Homo sapiens: one gene and its partners. The protein of the gene in region 1 interacts with the protein of each later gene in a biochemical or structural test. Each region holds a gene or a part of one and is shown in the gene's direction. Other genes may lie near its edges.

What was found. The genes of interacting proteins can lie anywhere in the genome.
Region 2: the proteins of PDK1 (region 1) and DLAT form a complex in vitro, tested with the Homo sapiens proteins (one study listed by BioGRID).
Region 3: of the proteins of PDK1 (region 1) and PKN2, one has a biochemical effect on the other in vitro, tested with the Homo sapiens proteins (one study listed by IntAct).

What each region holds. Positions count from the first base shown.
Region 1 is NC_000002.12:172,601,065-172,608,090, forward strand, and holds part of PDK1 ([Pyruvate dehydrogenase (acetyl-transferring)] kinase isozyme 1, mitochondrial isoform 2 precursor), read left to right. Parts: 3' UTR 1-7,026. UniProt on the Homo sapiens protein: Kinase that plays a key role in regulation of glucose and fatty acid metabolism and homeostasis via phosphorylation of the pyruvate dehydrogenase subunits PDHA1 and PDHA2.
Region 2 is NC_000011.10:112,020,803-112,028,432, forward strand, and holds the start of DLAT (dihydrolipoyllysine-residue acetyltransferase component of pyruvate dehydrogenase complex, mitochondrial isoform 2 precursor), read left to right. Parts: upstream 1-4,605; 5' UTR 4,606-4,670; coding exon 4,671-4,949; intron 4,950-5,395; coding exon 5,396-5,497; intron 5,498-7,630.
Region 3 is NC_000001.11:88,680,338-88,687,297, forward strand, and holds the start of PKN2 (serine/threonine-protein kinase N2), read left to right. Parts: upstream 1-3,935; 5' UTR 3,936-4,243; coding exon 4,244-4,291; intron 4,292-4,826; exon of another isoform or gene 4,827-4,867; intron 4,868-6,960. UniProt on the Homo sapiens protein: PKC-related serine/threonine-protein kinase and Rho/Rac effector protein that participates in specific signal transduction responses in the cell.

The sequences.
Region 1 (7,026 bases):
GGGACTCGCTTTACCCTGTCTACCTAAATTCTTTCTGCCTTCTATAACAATTGTATGCTCAGTAAATACATAAGGAATAATGAACTTAATAACATTTTTTTCCATTCTCAAAATGATACTTAAATGACTCAGTACAACAAAGAAACTGAGTAGTAACCAGTGCAAAACTAGCAAAAGGATGAAATACACAAGAAAATGAGAGAATTTAAGAGGAGTAGCAAAACAGCACTGCTAAAGTTACGGGTTTATTTTAAAGTTTAAAATAGAAGTAAACAAGCAAACATACTGATAATGGTTAGGCTTTCTGTCCCCACCGCACAAATCTCATCTTGAATTATAATCTCAACATGTTAAGGGAGAGACCAGATGAAAGTAATTGGATCATGGGGTTGGTTTCTCCCATGCTGTTCTCGTGATAGTTCCCATGAGATCTGATGGTTTTATAAGTATTTGGTAGTTCCTCCTGCATTCATTCTTCCTGCTGCCCTGTGAAGAGGTGCCTTCCACCATGATTGTGAGTTTCTGGAGGCTTCTGCAGCCTTGCGGAACTGTGAGTCAATCCTTTTTATTATAAATTACCCCGTCTCAGGCAGTTCTTTATAGCAGTGTGGGGATGGACTAATACTCGCTGGGTTAGCTGGGGTAGGTAAAGCCACAGCTGTGGCAGCAACCAGCTAGTGGGTGTCCCTTGATGGAGGCTTTGCAGGCTGCAGCAGAAGGGACCCTTCAGATAAACCTCCAGTCAGGAAAGGAAAAGGCCCAAATAAACAGTATTTAGATTTTTTTTTAAAGGACATAACTACCAATAGAGATTTAAAATAATCATAAGAATACCATTAACTTTATGATAAAAATTTTGTAAGTGGAGAAGAAATGGATATATTTCTAGGAAAACAGTAGAAGATCCATCTAAGATTTTGACAATTTAAATCAACCACTAAGGAAGTGGAATCAGTAATCACAAGTCCACCTCGCCAAAAGACAATTTTTGAAAGATGAATGTTACCAAAACATCAAGAAACTGATAATTCCTGTCTTATAGAAACTTTGAAATGAGAGAAAGCTACCCAACCCATTTCAGAAAGTTAGTAAAATCTCAAAGCTACACTTGAGCAAAGACTGTGAAATATTAATAGACCAATCTTGTTTATGAACATAGATGGAAAAATTGCTGATGAAATATTGGCACATTGAATGTAGCAGTGCATAAAATATTGTATCATGAGCAAAAGGAGAATCTTTCCCAGGAACAGGAGGATGTTTTAATAAAAATATGTAATTTACCTCTCTACAGATTAAAGGAGAAAAACTATATGATCACATCAACAGAAACAGGAAATTCAGTTTCTTTGGGGGATAGTTGTAATTAAAAGTGCTTAACTCACTTATATAAGCCATTAGTGGATGTTACAATAAACCTCGTATAGTGTCAGATGTAAGACAGACATACTGGAATTGTCTATGAGGTTGGATCCATGGGCCTGCCATGGAAAATTTGTTGAGTAATACGTCCAAGGCGTCACCATTTGCCAGGCGTTGCAAGTATCACCATTTGCAAGGTGTTAACAAAAAGTTACCTGCCTATGGATTCTCCTTTCTAACTCTGACCTAATATTTTGGAGCATAGAGGAAAGAAACATCTTATGTTTCTGTGTTTGGGTAAACATTAGACTTATAAAAGGGCCTAGGGTTTTTTTGTTTGGTAAACCATTGCCTTTCCTGCTTTGGTGTGGCAAATCTTCCTTTGGAGAAAAAGGTCCCTTTAATCTTAAAACCAACTCTCAGTGACCAACAAAAGCAACAAATAGGAACAACCACCCATTAAGAACCATCAGGTGATGCCTCATTTGCTGTGGTGCACAGCTGAACTTGATTGTTACTCTTGGATCAGGGTTGGCTTGATAAGGACTCACTTAACCAATGGAAAGTAAGGTTAAATCTTTGTAAGCAATGCTCCTGATGCGAATCACCTGGAGATCTTGAGCAAATGCAGACTGGTTCAGCAGATCTGGAGTGGGGCCTGAGATTCTGCATTTCTAACAAGTTTCCTGGTGATATTAATGCTGCTGGTCTGTGAGCCATACTTTGAGTAGCAAAGGACTAAAGGTTGTGAGATAAACTGCTTTTAGCAGCCCAAAGGGCCAGCTGGAAAGACGAGACCAGTTACAGAGCAAATGGCAAGACAGATCTGGTAATCTGATTCTTAGAGTACTTAAAAAAGATAAGAAGGATCTATTCCTGATATACAGGGTACTTGGTGGATGTGTCCATGACCTCGAGATCGAAAACCCATTAGTTAATCTTTGTGACATCTGAATTTTAAGGATCTTACCCAGTGAACATATAACTAGTGGAAATCCTGATAATTGGCTAATGCAAGGAAGTGATACCCATGTGTAATGCTTATCTTTGTATCCATTTCATGGGGAAGGTCATGGAAGACGACAGCAAACTTGAGTGGTTAATGAGAGCTTCACTAATGTTGTCTGCTGCAGGCAATAAGTGAAGTCTCTGGCAGTGGGAAGCATGGACCCAAGACCGAAAGCTCTGGCACTTTATAGCAGTGGTGGGGGGTAGATAGGACTTAGTGTGGCCCCTTAAAGAGCAAGGTCCAAGTGATTTTCTCTGGTGAATGTCGATGTGGATCTAGTCTCCAGGGTTAGATCCAGGCAGGTAACATCAAAGTCAGTTGATAAGACCTCTTATGCCTGTGAATGGAAGGCCCTGATAAAACTTCATTATTAATGTTCTGCATTAATTTAGCGGATGACTATAGTCATTTCACATAATCTAATACATGAATGTCCTGTATGGGTGACTGCTGAGGGTTTAACAAAGGAGAGTCCATTTATATTTGGCTGGTAAGATCGATGCTTCTGTCACTACTGATGGGCAAGGATATTAACATCAATATCTAAAAAAATTCTGAGATTTGGATTGTGATGTGTTAAATTTCTAGACCAATTTGAGGAGAATTTAACAATAGCTTTTCAATTTATGAACATGGCGTATATCTTTTTTGGCGGGGGGTGAGGACAGAGTCTTGCTCTGAGATTACCCAGGCTGGAGTTTAGTAGCATGATCTTGGCTCACTGCAACCTCTGCCTCCTGAGTTGAAGCAATTCTCCTGCCTCAGCCTCCCCAGTAGCTGGGATTACAGGCGAGCGCCATCATGCCTGACTAATTTTCGTATTTTTAGCAGAGACAGGGTGTCGCCACCTCAAGGGATCCACCTGCCTTGGCCTCCCAAAGTGCTGGGATTTATAAGCGTGAGTCACCGTACCTGGCCAGACATAGCATATATCTTCCTTTACATAGATTGCCTTTGATTTCTTTCATTGTTACTTTGTAGTTTTCAGCTTACAGATTCCGCGCATATTTTGTTAGACTTAAATCTAAGTATTTGCTTTTTTTTTAACTTACAAATTTTTTTAAAAAAACGTTTTTCCTCTCCAATGTTCATTGCTAATACATTTCACGTTTGAATCTCCAGTTCAGAAAAATCATGGCCTCTGGAGTTTTACTGAGGACTAGAGATAGCTAAGTAACATAGTTCCACCTTATTCACTTGGTCTTTGATGTGGTGTCCATAATTGAGTAAATGGCAGTATGTCCAATGGCAACACCATGAACTTGACTTTGCCCTCTTGTCTAGCCCTCTCCATTTAGACTTGGAAGGGTCAGCAGTAAAATTTCACTGGCCCAGTCCAGGGCTGCTTGAGTGTTACTGTTTTGTGCCACAATATGATGTGGCCAGACTACTTTTCTAGTTTCGAGATTATTTTGGAGCTTTATATTGGGTATGTTCTTATCCAACTATCATTAGGGGCATTGATCTCTGATGCCCTTTTCTTTCTTATCTTCCAAATGGCAGGCAGTAAATGGCTTATTAAGCAAGTATAAGATTCAAGATCTCAGCCCCAAAGATACATTTGTAGATGCCAGGCTTAACATTCCTGAGGCTCTCAGAGAAAACTTTTCCCTCTATAGACTCCCCATTTTAAGAAGGAGGCACAGGGCTTGGTTGGCCCATTTAGTTAGTGACACACCTATATTACTCTCCTTGGCATCTTACCCCAGCCCATCCATTGGGTTGTGTCAGTCTTTTATTTCTAAGTGAGGATCCAGTCAACAGGAGGCACAAGAGATAGAACCAAATACCATAATGCCTCCTTCTATTCCACTATGAACAGTCAAGGACACTGGAGGCCTCTGGGTGGGACACATAGGCGTTCAAGAGCCTCTGAGCTTAAAGATATGTGAGTGGAGCTAACTAGACTGTCCAGGTTTGGTCTACACTGTAATTTTTTTTTTTTTTTTTTTTTTTTGGAAGCAGAGTCTTGCTCTTTTGCCCAGGCCAGAGTGTAGTGGTGTGATCTCAGCTCAGTGCAGCGTCTGCTTCCTGGGTTCAAGTGATTCTCCTGCCTCAGCCTCCAAGTAGCTGGGACTACAGGTGCCTGCCACCATGCCCAGCTAATTTTTGTATTTTTAGTAGAGACGGGGTTTCACCGTGTTGGCCAGGCTGGTCTCGAACTCCTGAGCTCAAGTGATCCTCCTGCCTTGGCCTCCCAAAGTGTTGGGATAGCAGGCATGAACCACCGTGCTCAGCCTCTCTGTAAATCTTGAGTCGGCACTGAGCTCATGAAAGCTGTGCTGAGTGGGTTTCTTTAGATTTTCATTTTCATGTTTGCCCCATTTATGCTAATATTAATTATTGGAAAATAATTCACCTACTTTGCTTCTCTCTGACCAACATAGGGGCAGGATCTGTGGAAAGACATTTACCACCTGTTTGAAAAGGTCAGCGTGCTGATATTCACTAACTACTACCCCCACAACTCCCCCTCCCCCAAACCTGATAGATGCTATAATTTCTGCAGTCCAATCACTATTCTTCCCAAACTCCATGAGCCAGATTTTATACATACTTTGCGTGACCATAAAACTCTGTACTATTATAGACATAAAACCATTTAATTTCATAGATACCTTCAGTGGTGGCATCACTGGGTCCTCTCTTGGATAGCATAGTCCTATGACCAAATGGGTCAGTCGTTGATCAGGCTTCATGAGAATATGATCGCTGGGAGAAATATACAGCTAATTTAACAACAAATGACTGTCCTAATTCTGGAGACCTGGGAAGTATTGATGAGAGTATAGTGATCATAAGCAGACATTGGGTGCTTTAGCAAAGCCAATTTGCCTGCATCCTCTGGAAGGTAAAGAAGATCTCCTCTCTCTTAGAACTTAATCAAACTCTTGGCATCCACAGAAGGCTAGGAGGATGTAATGAATACTTACCATTTTTGTGGAAGCCCACAACCTTTTGAATGGCCTTTCTATACTTTAGTGAACCTCCATGTTATGAACCTTACTTCCTCAAGTCTCTTTTGCTGCTAGGAGGCAGACAGTAACTTCGGTAATTAGAAACATCTGCACTCAGCAACATGAAGCACAAGTTCTGTGCAGTTGTCCATATGCTGTCATGAGTTTTGCCATATGTATCATCTGGCTTTCAGAGGACCTTTCATGGTTGTCAGGTTAAGTTCCTGATACAGAAGTGGCATCAGTGCTGGTGTTAATGGCTGCAGTAAAGTCAAATTCCTAGATTTTAGTGCTCTGTGGTAGCAGAGAGAATGGTGGTAGTTTATTTTTTCTTTCCTTTTTTTTTTAAAAAAAAAAAAAAACCTTTTTCATGTTGAAGTTCACATGACCTACAACTAACCATTTTAAAGTGTAATTCAGTGTCATTCAGTACATCCACAATGTGCAATCACCACCTCTGTCTAGTTCCAAAACATTTTTATCACCCTAAAAGGAAACCTTGCACCCATTAAACAGTGGTAGTTTCTCTATCATGCCACTTTTGTAGCATGCTTTGGGGTCTTATTCCTGGGATCTTTCTCTACAGTGGTATGATTATATAAGGGTGGAAATATAAAAGAGTAAGCCTTTAGAAACAGTTTGTGTCTAAATTAGCTCTCAGGCATATTGTCTTCAAAGGAATGTTTTAAACCAGCCAAAGACTAACATCAACATGCTTACATTTTGAGTCCAAAATTAAAATCCAAAATAGCCAAGCATGGTGGCTCACGCCTATAATCCCAACTACTCCAGAGGCTGAGGTGTGATAGAATTTCTTGAACCTAGGCGTTCCAGGCTGCAGTGAGCTATGATTGTGCTGCTGCACTCCAGCCTGGGTGACAGAGCGAGGTTGCTTCTAAAACAAAAATTTGAAATAGTAAGTGCTTTGATTTTTTTTAATATAGAATCAAACAATTGTGAAAATATAATTGGCTAAGTTTCATATACAGTTCTTTCTAAAACTCCTTCTGTTCTCTAAGATGTAGTTTGAACCAGCCAAGGATGATGGCTTCAACATGTCTCCAGTTGTTTTGCCACTCCAGGGCCTGACTCAAACCAAAATAAGACTTGCTGTTACCCTGAGACAAGCCAACTGTCATTGCTTTAGCAACCACTACGGCTACAGGTTGTTGCATCATGCCAAGCTCTGTGTTCTTTCTAACTAGTAGAATGGAGTGGGATGGTATCGTGATGGTGAACCCAAAACAATGGTACTAGGAAGGAGGTTGGCCAAACTCAGAGTGGAGGCTGACCCTGTATCTGGTTGTAGCAGAGTCGGTCCTAGGGGAACAGGCTCAGCAGCAGCAAGGATGCAAGGACCAGAAGGCAGCAGGGGAAGGAAAAGGAGCAGGGGATAGGGGAACTTTAGGAGCAGAGTAGTGTTGATAACTGGCATCTGGAACCTACAGTTTCCAGTTCAGAGCAGTACACCATACTCAGTGTATACTTACACTCCAAGACATTTCCTGGGCAGTGATCTAGAAATGATATTTTTAAAAGGAGCTGTGTTTCAGTGTTAGACTGTAGTTATCCAAGCAGTATCAGATAGTGTGCAGTTTTTGTAGTAAAAGGTAAAAATCTGAATAATAAAGTTTATTAATAACAGTTTTAGTTAATACTTGACTGACATTGAGACCCTTGATGCAAAAAGGTAAGTAG
Region 2 (7,630 bases), on another chromosome or scaffold:
GTCTTTTCCTATTGAAGAATTTTTCATCAGAAACGACTGGGAAAGTTTGGGAAAGTCAGCAAAAGAAAGAATGCATTTCGAAAGCAAACAGAAGAAAAAAGTATATTCTCACAGTTTTTCCCCAGGAAGTCTGGAGAAAAAGTCCTCATGTCACCAATTTCTCTGTTGCATGAATTTTAGTGTTTTGCTATAAGACAGCATGAGGGCTATCAGGCCAAAATTCATTATTGTATTTCCAATACAGTTTGTCTTGAATGTCTGTCTCTTAAACCAGTTTTTACTTGTCAGTTTTCTCTCAGCAAACAGTCTTACTATTATGTGGAATTTAACTTTTCAGAGAAAATTTCCAAAGTCCTCTACCTTATTTGGCTTTTATCTGTGTCTTTTGGAAAAGGAGCTGCATGGCCTCAGTGCCTCCATAAAAAGCTTAAGTTGAGTTCATGGGAGAACATTAAGATCGTTTTTTTTCCCTTTTAGCTCGGTAATCTCATGTACCACAGGTAATGACCAAGCATCTCTGCTAGAGGATGTAACTCTCATAACTCCTGTGTAAAATGAGGATCCTGTTGGTGATCCTCATTCCAGTTTCCAAAGCGAGAGGAGCCTTCTGAGCAGAAGTATGCAAGACTGATTCTGTTTGGAACAGTTTCCTATTTGGCTGCATTCTAGGAGGCCTCCTGACTTATTCATAGTATTGTCGCCTGGTGGCATTGGTGTGGGGTAGCTTGTCCTGCTACTTGCTAAAGTTCTCTTTCTTTGAGAAAACTGAGGAACCAGAATGCTTAGAGTTCATAAAATAATCTCTAAACCATGTTAGGTTAAAACAAAATGACCATCTCACAAAAACGAGTTTAGTTGAATGCTCAATTCCTTACAAAATCTTCATTTAAGGCTGAGTGTGGTGGCTCATGCCTGTAATTCCAGCACTTTGGGAGGCCGAGGCAGGAAGACTGCTTGAGCCCAGGAGTTCAAGACCAGCCTGGGCAACGTAGGAAGACTCCGTCTCTACATAGAAATTTTATTATAAAAGTAGCTGGGGATGGTGGCACACACCTGTAGTCCCAGCTACTCAGGAGGTTGAGGTGGGAAGATTGCTTGAGCCCAGGAGTTTGAGGTTGCAGTGAGCTGATCATGCCACTGCACTCTAGCCTAGGCTACAGAGCAGGACCCCATCTCCAAAAAAAAAAAAAAAAAAGTCATTTAAAAACTGAAGAATGTTCTCTTCTTGCTCAGTTCCCTAAATTAGCTGGGGGGATTGGGATACTTTACAATTTTTACATTTTTAAATTTGAAGAATTTGTTTTAAACTTACTTGGTAATGGCACTTCTACTTACTGACCAACTTTTCAGCTCTTTTTGACCAGGATGGTTGCAAATTAGGGAAAATATCTTTATACTATACATCCAATTCAAGAGGACTTTAATTACTTAAAAGCATTTAGGTCATAATTAAAATTATTTTCACTGTTTCCATAAAATAAGCATTATGATTGCACACTCCTTCTACTGTCTGAATTTATGTAAGAGGTATAGCTTGCTTAAAATACATATATATGTAAAGTTATATTTTCTTAGAAACATGGATGTTTACAGCCATTGCTTTCAAAGAGATTATTACTGTGTATTCTCCCTGTTTTACAATATGTTTTCATGAAGACTATGTTACACCAGAGGCTTCTGATTATCAAAGTGATAACCAGTTTTAACTGCCGGTATGTACCAGATTTGTGAACTAATTTAAAAAACCACAAACTATGAATAAAATGGGGTTTGCAAACTAAATATCATTAATGATTTTCACTTGCGTTTACTGATGAGATTAATCAATAAAGCCATTTACATTTAGTGAAAGCAAATTTCCTCAAGTGATCTCCCTGGTAGCATGTTTACTCACTATGTGGAGTGGAGATAAGAATTACTTTATTGCTACAGATATTTTACAATTAGTATTTCTATGTAAGCACATAGGCTATTATCAAGGACAATTTATTTAGCACTTATTTTGAAATTATATGTAAACATGCAAACAAATAAGAACCCAAGAGTATAAACTCTATGACAAAAGTCAGTATGCAAGCATTAAGAACTCTTTCAGAAATGTGTATTTAAAATGACCAGAATTCCCAGATCATTTGAAAGCTGCCTCTTAAATGCCTCTTATCAATTCATCTTAAATGTTTGCTATATTAAATTCTTTATCCCTGAGTGCCTTCATTTGACTTCCAATTACGTATTTTCAACTATTAATTGGCTATCCCATTATGTTAAAATTAAATATGTACATAACTCAAAATCTTTCACTACCAACTAATTTCTGTTTCTCTCAATATCAGTGATATCACCATTCTCTTAAGTATCTCTATTTCAAACCTTTGAGTCTTGAGTCTCCTTTTCCATAATTTCCTTTATCCAGTCTGTTTAGTGGAATTCAAGCTTGTTCTCTCAGGACTGATTTGAGAAACCTAAGCATTCCTAGCCCACCTCTGGGGTAAGCTCGCCATCTCTGGACTGTTTGAGCTATGCATTCCTATAATTTAACTACACTTAAGTCAAAAGTATATTCAAGACACAAACTCGCTATTCTTTGAAAAATGCAAAACAGGGTTTAAGCAAGCATACCTAAGTGCACAACAGATCCGGAAGATCACCTCATACTTTATACCAAAGTCTAATTTAGATCCAGTTATTAAGTTCAAATGCAGCAAAAGCAGCAAGATATTTTAGCCAACTCAAAAACATTTTTATAATAATTTATAAGTCCTGGGCGGGCATGGTGGCTCGCGCCTGTAATCTCAGCACTTTGGGAGGCCGAGGCAGGTGGATCACCTGAAGTCAGGAGTTTGAGACCAGCATGACTAACATGGTGAAACCCCGTATCTACTAAAAACACAAAATTAGCTGGGCATGGTGGCACGTGCCTGTAATCCCAGCACTCGGGAGGCTGAGGCAGGAGAATCGCTTGAACCTGGGAGGTGGAGGTTGCAGTGAGCCGGGATCATGCCACTGCACTCCAGCCTGGGCGACAGAGTGAGACTCCATCCCCAAATAATAGTAATAAGTCCTTTCAGTAATTACAATTATTCTTTCATTGCTTCTTCCAATTGTTAATTCATAAGTTGTACATAATTGTAACAATATAATTGCTCTCTTCATATTATTTAAAATATGCCTTTTCATTCAATCTAGAAATTTTATATTTCTCAATTATATTGCTTACATATTATTCTGATAGACAGCTGTACCTGCTTAAACATTCCAATTTAAGTAGGCATGAAATAGTACATCCAATCTGTTTTAGTTTTCCAAATTAATTGTTAGCAAGATTAGCCCCCATTTTTTTTTTTTTTTAACAGATGGGAGTCTCATTATGTTGCCCAGGCTGGTCTCAAACTCTTGGGCTCAAGTGATTCCCCCACCTCAGCCTCTCAAGCATTGCTGGGACTACAGGCATGCACCACCGCTCCTGGCTAAAATCTTGTTTTAAGTTTCTTCCCTCCAACTTCCTCTTGCGTTCTTGGTGTTCTCTAACCATCTCTACAGGGGGGAGGTGGTGATACACAGCACATGCTTCCTCCTTATCTAATGTCACCTTCAGTTCAGAAACGATATGTTTTCTAATTAAAAGACAACTTTACAAGAGAAGCGTGCCTAACAAAATGTGTAGATGACTTTTTATTCATTGATTCAAAAGACATACATTCAGCCCCCGCTATTTACTGGATATTAAGCTCTGGGGCTACATGGAAGGACCACGCAGACACTCTTCATGCCTTCAACGGCTTACAGTTAAGTTTTTCAAACATTTGAAACATAACGAAGCTTTTGGTTACTTAAAAGAATTCTATGGTATTAGGGAGCAACACCTGTTTTGTAAACCTATATCTTCATACAGGGAATATGCTTAATCTTGCTACAGTATACATGAATGCGGGAATGTATCTTCCTCTGGGCTGCCTTTCGTTACCACTTGGCTGGGTGGAACACCTGTTCACTCCACTTTCCACTTGGGCTACAAACCTGAAACGAAATCTTTGCAACCAGTACAGCCTGCGCGGGGCGCGGCCCAGTCCATCCCCCTTCGGATGCGCAGAAGCAGAGGTCACCACGCCGGACCCCTCGATTCCCTCGCGGGCGATTCCTGGCTCCTTCACCACCCCAGCACTCCAAGACCCCCGCCCTTTGGCCTGAGGCTCCCACTGCCCTAGCCAGTTCCCGGGCTCACTTCCAGCTTTTCCAGAAAGCTTGGCCACGCCCCTCGGCCCAGACTCTCAGGCCACTCGGCCGCAATTAACCCGCGTCTCTGCGCCTTTTTAGGCCCCTCCCCCTCGGTCGTGCCCTTGTCATCTCTTAGGCCCCGTCTCACCCTTTCGGATGCCTCCCCTAGAACCCTACCACTTTCCACCCCTTTCCGTCTGTTATTTCTCCCAAACTTGCGCCCGCACAGGCCCCTCTGGAACACTCCTGCCCCGTAGTGCCCCTCGTCCCCGCTCCGTAGAGAAAGAGCGTGCGTGCCGCGCATTTCTGGCCTGGGGAGCGGGTGGAGTAAACCTGCGGGAACCATTTTACGACAACGTGCGGCTGTGCGGTGTGGCTGACGGCAACGCCGCTGCTCTTGGAGAGGTCACTCCGGAGACGGCGTTGGTTTTGGGGTGTGGGGGGTTGGTGGCACTATGTGGCGCGTCTGTGCGCGACGGGCTCAGAATGTAGCCCCATGGGCGGGACTCGAGGCTCGGTGGACGGCCTTGCAGGAGGTACCCGGAACTCCACGAGTGACCTCGCGATCTGGCCCGGCTCCCGCTCGTCGCAACAGCGTGACTACAGGGTATGGCGGGGTCCGGGCACTGTGCGGCTGGACCCCCAGTTCTGGGGCCACGCCGCGGAACCGCTTACTGCTGCAGCTTTTGGGGTCGCCCGGCCGCCGCTATTACAGTCTTCCCCCGCATCAGAAGGTGAGCCCTAGACCCCCCTTCTCGGGACCCCGTTGTCCTTCAGAGCTGACTGGATGCCTGCAAGATCCTCCTTGAGAGGCCTCACTGATCCTCCACCCATTCCCAGTATCTGCTTTGGCCCTTTGTCCAATAGTTGGCTTTGCTGTAGCTCCTTAGTGTCCCTCTCATGATCTATTTCATTGAAAGGAGAGCTTCAAGACTGGGGCTGTATGCAGAATATCTGCCGAGGTTCATGCTTTGTCAGACCCACAGGACTGTGGAGGAGAAAGCCTGTCACTGGAAATTACTAACTTCTCATGGACAGGAACTCCCTTGGCATCCCTAGTTCCCAATGTGCAATGGAACTGTATACACTTTGCATGAAATTGAATTGAATGAAATCTTAAGCCAGACTGAGAGTTAGGTAGTCCTTAAAAATTTTAATGTTTCTTCTTTTCCTTTTCCAGGTTCCATTGCCTTCTCTTTCCCCCACAATGCAGGCAGGCACCATAGCCCGTTGGGAAAAAAAAGAGGGGGACAAAATCAATGAAGGTGACCTAATTGCAGAGGTAAGTTTTTTTTTTTTTTTTTAATTAATTTATTTATTTTTTTTATTGATCATTCTTGGGTGTTTCTCGCAGAGGGGGATTTGGCAGGGTCATAGGACAATAGTGGAGGGAAGGTCAGCAGATAAACAAGTGAACAAAGGTCTCTGGTTTTCCTAGGCAGAGGATCCTGCGGCCTTCCGCAGTGTTTGTGTCCCTGGGTACTTGAGATTAGGGAGTGGTGATGACTCTTAAGGAGCATGCTGCCTTCAAGCATCTGTTTAACAAAGCACATCTTGCACTGCCCTTAATCCATTTAACCCTGAGTGGACACAGCACATGTTTCAGAGAGCACAGGGTTGGGGGTAAGGTCACAGATCAACAGGATAAGAATTTTTCTTAGTACCGAGCAAAATGAAAAGTCTCCCATGTCTACCTCTTTCTACACAGACACGGCAACCATCCGATTTCTCAATCTTTTCCCCACCTTTCCCCCCTTTCTATTCCACAAAACCGCCATTGTCATCATGGCCCGTTCTCAATGAGCTGTTGGGTACACCTCCCAGACAGGGTGGTGGCCGGGCAGAGGGGCTCCTCACTTCCCAGTAGGGGCGGCTGGGCAGAGGCGCCCCTCACCTCCCGGGCGGGGCAGCTGGCCAGGCGGGGGCTGACCCCCCCACTTCCCTCCCGGACGGGGCGGCTGGCTGGGCGGGGGGCTGGCCCCACCACCTCCCTCCCAGACGGGGCGGCTGGCCTGGCGGGGGCTGACCCCCACCTCCCTCCCGGACGGGGTGGCTGCCGGGCGGAGACGCTCCTCACTTCCCAGACGGGGTGGCTGCCGGGCGGAGGGGCTCCTCACTTCTCAGACGGGGTGGCTGCCGGGCGGAGGGGCTCCTCACTTCTCAGACGGGGCGGTTGCCAGGCGGAGGGTCTCTTCACTTCTCAGACGGGGCGGCCGGGAAGAGACGCTCCTCACCTCCCGGACGGGGTCGCGGCCGGGTAGAGGCGCTCCTCACATCCCAGACGGGGCGGCGGGGCAGAGGCGCTCCCCACATCTCAGACGATGGGCGGCCGGGCAGAGGCGCTCCTCACTTCCTAGATGGGATGGCAGCCGGGCAGAGACGCTCCTCACTTTCCAGACTGGGCAGCCAGGCAGTGGGGCTCCTCACGTCCCAGACGATGGGCGGCCAGGCAGAGACGCTCCTCACTTCCCAGACGGGGTGGCAGCCGGGCAGAGGCTGCAATCTCGGCACTTTGGGAGGCCAAGGCAGGCGGCTGGGAGGTGGAGGTTGTAGCGAGCCGAGATCACGCCACTGCACTCCAGCCTGGGCACCATTGAGCACTGAGTGAACCAGACTCCGTCTGCAATCCCGGCACCTCGGGAGGCCAAGGCTGGCGGATCACTCGCGGTTAGGAGCTGGAGACCAGCCCGGCCAACACAGCGAAACCCCGTCTCCACCAAAAAAATACGAAAACCAGTCAGGCGTGGCGGCGCGTGCCTGCAATCGCAGGCACTCAGCAGGCTGAGGCAGGAGAATCAGGCAGGGAGGTTGCAGTGAGCCGAGAAGGCAGCAGTACAGTCCAGCTTCGGCTCAGCATCAGAGGGAGACCGTGGAAAGAGAGGGAGAGGGAGACCGTGGGGAGAGGGAGAGGGAGACGGAGAGGGAGAGGGAGAGGGTAAGTTGTTTTAAAGTAACGGAGATGAGTTCGAAGAGACTGGCTTTGCCTAATTGACTGAACATTGACTTTCTGGATGTGTAGCTACCCCTTTGTTTAAGAAACTGAAGTGTTTTTCACAACTTGATGTTAGACAAGATTGGTTGGATAAGTTGTCAGCAGCTGGCCAAACTGATTTTAACCAAGGCGTTTCTAAAGTAATTTCTTCTTTGAAATCTGTCGTAGTGGCCTTATCTTCACATGAACTGTATAATTCTAGACACAAAGGCCAGGCTGGCCAACATGGTGAAACCCCGTCTCTGCTAAAAATACAAAAATCAGCCGGGCATGGCAGCCTGTTCCTGTAATCCCAGCTACTCGGGAGGCTGAGGCAGGATAATCGCTTGAACCTGGGAGGGGGAGGTTGCAATGAGCCGAGATTGCACCACTGCACTCCAGCCTTGGTGACAGAATGAGACTCTGTGTCTCAAAAAAAAAAAA
Region 3 (6,960 bases), on another chromosome or scaffold:
GAAGAAGAGGGTGGTGACCAAGTAATTCTTACTCTGACCTCTGGAGTTTTGCCTTTCCTTAGGCACTCTTACTTTGATTACCACTGCTACTTCATTCTAATCTTTTGGAAGTAGGGGTGGGCTTTTTCTTCTAACATGGAAAACAACAACAACGAAAGGAAAACAAAACAAAACAAAACTCTTGTATTGATTCTCCATCATACTGTAGGGACACGTTTGAATTGAACAGTTTACAAATATTAAGGACAAGCAAAAGGGAAATAAACAACGGAAGGCAATAAAAATGTGACTCACAAAATAAAGATTTCTGGCCCTTTCCCTGGACATATGGTTCCTGTCTCATTTCACTTGAAATTTAAGGAAAAAGAGGGCCCATATTATCTGAATATCTGTTTCAAAAGCACAGAAAATGAAAAAAAAAAAAAGTTGTTAGCTTTTCTAGAATTTTTCCTGTAACATCCCATCTTTAAGAAAAAAAGATAACACTTTCTATTTATTTCTAGATTTTTGGTCATTTCTACTTCTTAAAGACCTTTAAAATATTTATGAAAAATTTAAAAAGGTACCAGCATAACTAGTGATACAATCCAGATATTTTTAAGGACTTTGCCCTCTTAAATGGACACTAAAAAAACTCTTCTTTTTTTTTTATTGTTAATGTAAATTACTTCTGAACTATATTTAAGATTCTCTAAACACATTTGTAAATAGGGGCCCAATACAACCCATCTGAATCAACCTGATATGTTTCCATTAAAACTTTTTCAAGTGTGCTTCAGTCTGATAAGTATGATCCATGTCCTATTACGTTTTTTTCCCCCTGAACAGAGAATGTGACCTGGGTAGTAAATTTTAGCTTAAATGAAACTAATTTGCTGTTTAAATCATCACATATTTTAGATTATCAAGTAGTTTTAATATTGTTGGCCTCCCTTTTGTACTACTTTCCCTAGCACAGCTAATCTCAGAAATAATTCCTTAACTTTAAAAACTTTGTATATTTGTTGCTTAAATTTACATGTGAAATGTAAAATTAATATTCCTTATCAACAGTGGTGTGCACCTATAGTCCCAGCTGTTTTGAAGGATGAGTCAGGAGGATCCCTTGTGCCCAGGAATTTGAGGTTGCAGTGAGCTATGATCATGCCACTGCAGTCAAGCCTGGGCAAAAGAGCGAGACTGTCTCAAAAAAATTTTTTTTAATTATTAACACTTTTAACATTAGAAGTGTGTAACATTTAAAGTCTTTTTCTACGGTAAAAATTTAATGCTTTCAGTTTAATATCAATTTAAAGTTATTATAGTGGCATGGTGAAGGTTAAAACAAGCATGGATGGCAATTAGGAGACTTAGGTAATAGTCCCCATCTCTGCCACTAAGTAATACTGCTGTCTTGCTTCTAATTAGCTAAGGAAACTATTAATTTTTTTTCCTACCTACAATAGGAGTTAAGCTAGATATTTCAAGTCACTTCTAGTTCTAAAATTACATGATGCTGAAATGTGAACATTTATATCTAAATTAATTTTTACAAAGACTGCTCATTGACTGTATTTCTAAGCCCTTGCACAGTTAACTCTTAGTTCCACCATTATTAATCACCTTCTATGTGCATGTCAGCCATCTCAAATCCATTCTGCAGTAAGCCTTGACAAAAATAAATTTGTACGCCAGGCACGGTGGCTCACACCTGTAATCCCAGCACTCTGGGAGGCCGAGGCAGGAGGGTCACGAGGTCAAAAGATCGATACCAACCTGGCCAACATGGTGAAACCCGTCTCTACTAAAAATACAAAAGTTAGCCAGGAGTGTTGGCATGCGCCTGTGGTCCCAGCTACTCAGGAGGCTGGGGCAGGAGAATCACTTGAACCTGGGAGGCGGAGGTTGCAGTGAGCTGAGATGGCACCACTGCACTCCAGCCTGGTGACACAGCGAGACTCTGTCTCAAAAATAAATAAATAAATAAATCTGTGTGCATTCAATGCCCCTGAATTGTACACTTATGGTTATAATAAATTTGATTATGCATTTTACCATAATAAAACATTATACACACACACACACAAATGCATGCAGTGCTCCCCTAACACTGTATCTATTACTTAAAATGGCATTATTGTTGTTCGGACATAAGTTGGCTTCCCCAAAGAATTCTCCAGTCACCCCAAGGATAAGTACCTTTTTTTTTTTTTTTTTGAGGCAGTGTCTCACTCTTACTGCAACCTCTACCTCCTGGGTTCAAGCAATTCCCCTGCCTCAGCCTCCCGAGTAGCTGGGATTACAGGCGCACACCACCACGCCCAGCTAGTTTTTGTATTCTTAGTAGAGACAGTTTCACCAAGTTGGCCAGGCTGGTCTCGAACTCCCGACCTCAGATGATCGGCCAGCCTTGGCCTTCCAAAGTGCTGGGATTAAAGGCGTGAACCACTGCGCCTGGCCGGATAAGAACTCCTAATCCTTTCTGTAACTCCAAAGCCTAGGAAACCATCTGGCTTTTAGTTACCAGTAAAGGTAATCATATCCCGGCCTTTCCAAGTGTTCTTTCATGTATTTAATTATCATCTTCAACCAAGGCAATATACTAGACACATAAATAGTTGTAAGACTTGTGAAGTACACACCAGAAAAATTCTTTATCACACATATGATAAGTTAGAGTTCAGAAACTGTGGCCACAGAACTCCAGATCTTCAATACATGTTTGCTGAATTGATGTATGAGACTTGAGAAGGCAAAAGGATAGACGTTAAGTCCTGGCATCAGGCCAACAGAGTTACATGGAGCGTGTGAGAAGTACATAATGTTACACTTCCTAAGAAATATGTCAACGAATGCCCTTTCTAAGTAGCAACGTACCTAAATAACCCTTACCACTCTCTCCAGGTAGTTTTAACAAAGGTATTGTACCGCAGCTTCAAAAAATCAAAAGTTACGCGTTTACCTATCCATTCACTGCTCAGACAAAACAAAAACAAAAGCTACCTGTAGGAGACTTCGAAATTCCTTAATACCATAGTGTCATTAAAAACAAACACCTAGATTTACTTTACTTAGCTATATTTTACTAAGTAGTCAGGTTAGCTTTAATGCTTACCACGCCAAGGAAAGGTGGCTTTTTTCCTTTCCCGAGGGTAATCCCGTCCCACCTCCCCCTCCCTTAAATAAAGTTAAAACAACCCAAAAAAACCCAGCTAATTCTCAGCTCTGTACAGTTCTCCAGTACAAGCAACAGTAGTTCAACCTCAAGAAAAAGACATCTTAAAGGCCGTACATTAAAAGTTGCCAGGGATCCAGCCGCTTACATTTCATGAAAAGTACAGACCATACCCGTTTAGCTAGCTGTGCACCTTAACTGGTCGAGAAGGCGCGCTGGGGGCTGGGTTTGAGGGTGAGCAAAAGGCAAGATTATTAGTTTGGGTTGACGTGGGGGTCAAGGGGAGAGCAGAGGAATAATCTGTAAGATCTGAGTCCCGAAGCTCTTTGGGTTATGGAGGTTAGAAAAGGGCCTGTTAAAGTTAGGCCCAAGTTTCGGCAAGGTGGAACTGGGAAAAAAAAAAAAGAAAGAAAAAAAAAACGAAACCCGAAAAAACAACAGCGAGCAGGCTCCCGAGTTCTAGCGTTCACAGTGAAGCCGTTAAACGCAGCAGGAAAGTAGGCGTGTGTTTTCTTCCTCTTCCCGCCTCCCCAGAGACTCGAGCCCAGTCCTTTCCCCTCATTTTCACCCCAGCCGAGTCCAATGGCTGCCCTCGCCGCGGAGTCGGGTCGGAAGACGCCCCGCCCCCTCGCCGCGTTCGCCCTAGGGAACCCCTCCGCCCCACCTTCCCTGCCCGATGAGGGGCAGTGGCTGCCGCCGTCACGTGTGCTGGCAGCCGCCAAGTGAGGCCGCTTTTGCGACGCGGTGACAGCCAAATGGTGCGACAGGAGGAGCTGCAGCCGCGGCCGCAGCGCCCGCACGGAGAGGCTTGAGGCGGCTCCTGGCGTCGCCCAGAGGGAGCGACTAGACGAACAGTCCGGTGAGGGCGGCGAGAGGAAGCCCGCTACGAGTGCCCTAGCTCCCCGCCGCTCTCGATGAACCGGACGGAATAAGCCGCGCCTCCAGCAGGGGCTGCGCCTCCATGAATCCCTAGTTGTTTTTTTTTTTTTCTTTCTCTCCCCTCTCCTCACCCCCACCCCGAGCCCCGTCCCGCCTTCTCCCTTCGCCAGAGGCGGCCGCGTCCAGGTGCGGAGTCCATACCGGAGCGCAATGGCGTCCAACCCCGAACGGGGGGAGATTCTGCTCACGGAACTGCAGGTAAGGGCCGCGGCCCTGGTGAGAGGCGCTGGCGGAGGAGACAGGGAGAGAGCCCCGCGCGGCGTCGGGGACCGAGGAAAGCCCTGCGGCCGCCGCGCCCCTAGCCCGCTAAGTGCGGAAACTCCGGGATGTCACTCGGGAAATGCTTCCCTCGGGGAACCGCTTCCCTGGGGAGCCGGACCCTCTCCCCCGCCAAAGCCCTGGCCTGCCACCGCTTTGGTTTGATTCTGCCTACCAGAGGGGACCCCATCTCTGCAGCCCTGCTGCAGCGGGAGCCTGCTCTCGCCTGGTCCCCGGAGAGGCCGGCCCGTCGCCCCCTCCCTCGGTGTCAGAGCTACCCGCGAACGCCCCTGTTGCCCCCTCCCTTCGCGCGGCCGGGCCCCGCCCCGCCTTTCCTCCGTACACCGCTCCTTAAACTCCTTTGAATGACTCCCAAGCTGTTTTCTTGTCCCTCCCCCTCCCCTCAGACTCCGCACAAAGAGCGCCCCCATAACTTCCAGCCCCTAGACAAGTTTTTTTAAAAAACGAGTCTCACCAAATGTTTGCTTCACTTCAGCAGCCCTCTTCAGGTGACAGAGTTTCTTTCCTCTATTTTGAGGGTTATCTTTTTCTTTTCTTTTCCTTTCTTTTTTTTTTTTTAACCGAGTGATAAATACAGGGTGCCTTTCTCTGCTACCCCTGCCCAGATCCGGGAGCTCAGATGCTGATGCTTTTCAGACTTTCATTTTCCCTCTCATTTGAGCACCAGAGAAAGAGCTAATAAGTTGTTTACTAATGAGAAAGCAGTCGACTAAGGGAAAACATTGGGCACCACATGTCTGCAAAAGATGAGAGCAAAGTAGATCGCTTAGTTAAGTCATGTCGAGTAGCAATGTTATTTCCCATTTCCAGATAAATATTTGATAATGTAGGCACGATTTTCTTTAGATCTCTATGGTGTACATGGGGACTTAAGCTACCCTGTCGGGTTTTTCATTACTTGGGAGTGTTCCAGAGATGTTTGTTTTTTGACTTAAAAGTTATTTTGCTTTATTTTAATATAGTTATCTTTTAGCTACTCAAAGATTGTAGATGGGAATTAGGAGAAAAAAATAGCATGCCTGCATTTCTTTTTGTGTGTTGGACAGTTAATTTTTTTTAAAAAAAAGACTAAATCAAGAAATTCTGAAGAGTTGATGTCAAAATTAAGTATTGCAACTGCATCTAAATTTCTTGTTTAAATATACTTTTTAAGAAATCTCTTTATAAGTTTGGTTTCTTGTGCAGTCAGACGTAAGCTTGAAAACTTTGGTATAATGGTTGATATTTCCTCCACAAAAATAGAGACTTTAACAATGTATATCAATGCAGTGTTGCACATTTAGAATCCTTTGGTAATGCAAAGCTGAATTTCATATAATTGAAAATGTTGCTATGTAGTATTTTAATTACAGTTAGCCTTTTATAAGCAGATCTTACAGCATACCACATTTGCTAAATGAATGGAATTTACTATTTTATTAATAGTAAATAATTTACATGAGCTTTTAAAATGAAGATGATGTGAGGCAAGTCAGAAATACTTTACATTGCCTGGTCTTGAACCATGAAAAACATACTTTGGTTTTGATTGAGAAAGATGATAGGGTCACTTTTCTTTTGAATTGAGCAGTGTTAGAGTTACAATATATTTGGCATTGGTACTTGTATGTTATAGAAAGTTGGCATAAAAGACACCTACTTTGGCACTGGAACTGAAAATATATTTTCATGTGTATTAATAACATTTAGGATCTTTTAATTAATAAGATCAATTTTGATAATAACAAGGAAGCAAGCAAAGAAGGAAGAAATTTTAAATATGATGACCTAGAAATACGACCAAAATAGAGGAATACCTAAAGTTAAGCTTCTAGATAAACTGAAATATAACCCCTTCCAGAAAAAGAATAGTTTTTATTAAGTGTTACCTTATAGGTTGTCATATATCCAAGTCATTTTCTTGGTTTATTTGACTCCCAGTTTTGATAAAAGTTATTGCATTTAAACTTTATCGTGTTTATTAAAATGTTTGCGACTATTACTTATATCAACACTTAAAGATAAATAGTCATAAAGTTTGCTTCTCCAAATATTTCCATCTATTCAGACTTTTTATTTCATTGGGTCCTGAAACTTAGTGTACAGCAACCAAGTATTTATTAAACTTTTGTTTCAAGATTCACTTTTTTAAAAAGCTTCTAAATTGTTTGAATTTAGACTGAAATACTGTTTAATATGAAGTTCTTAATTCTTCTCTGCCATACAGATTTTAAGTATTTAAGAAGTTTTGTAGCCAGTTTTAAGATGTATTTAATGGTTAAAACTGTTACTTTGCTATGTATCCTGTCTCAGGAATACTTGTTTACTCTGAAAGTTACATATTACAACCTGGCTTTAATAAAATTGATATTTATTTAGAAATATATCCAGCTTTTCATTATTTTTTCAAATTGTAGAATTTGAAATACTCCACTGCTTGAGCTGGAATTGGCTTTTGGTCATGGAAAGGCAAAGTAAGAAAATCTGAAACTACAGTATTCTGTCTTGTTAATTACTGTAATAGCATGGAGTAATGTTTTTAAGTATTGTTAGTAATTCAGGAGGCTTATTCAACAAGGAAGCATTAATAAACTATGTAAACTTTGGTG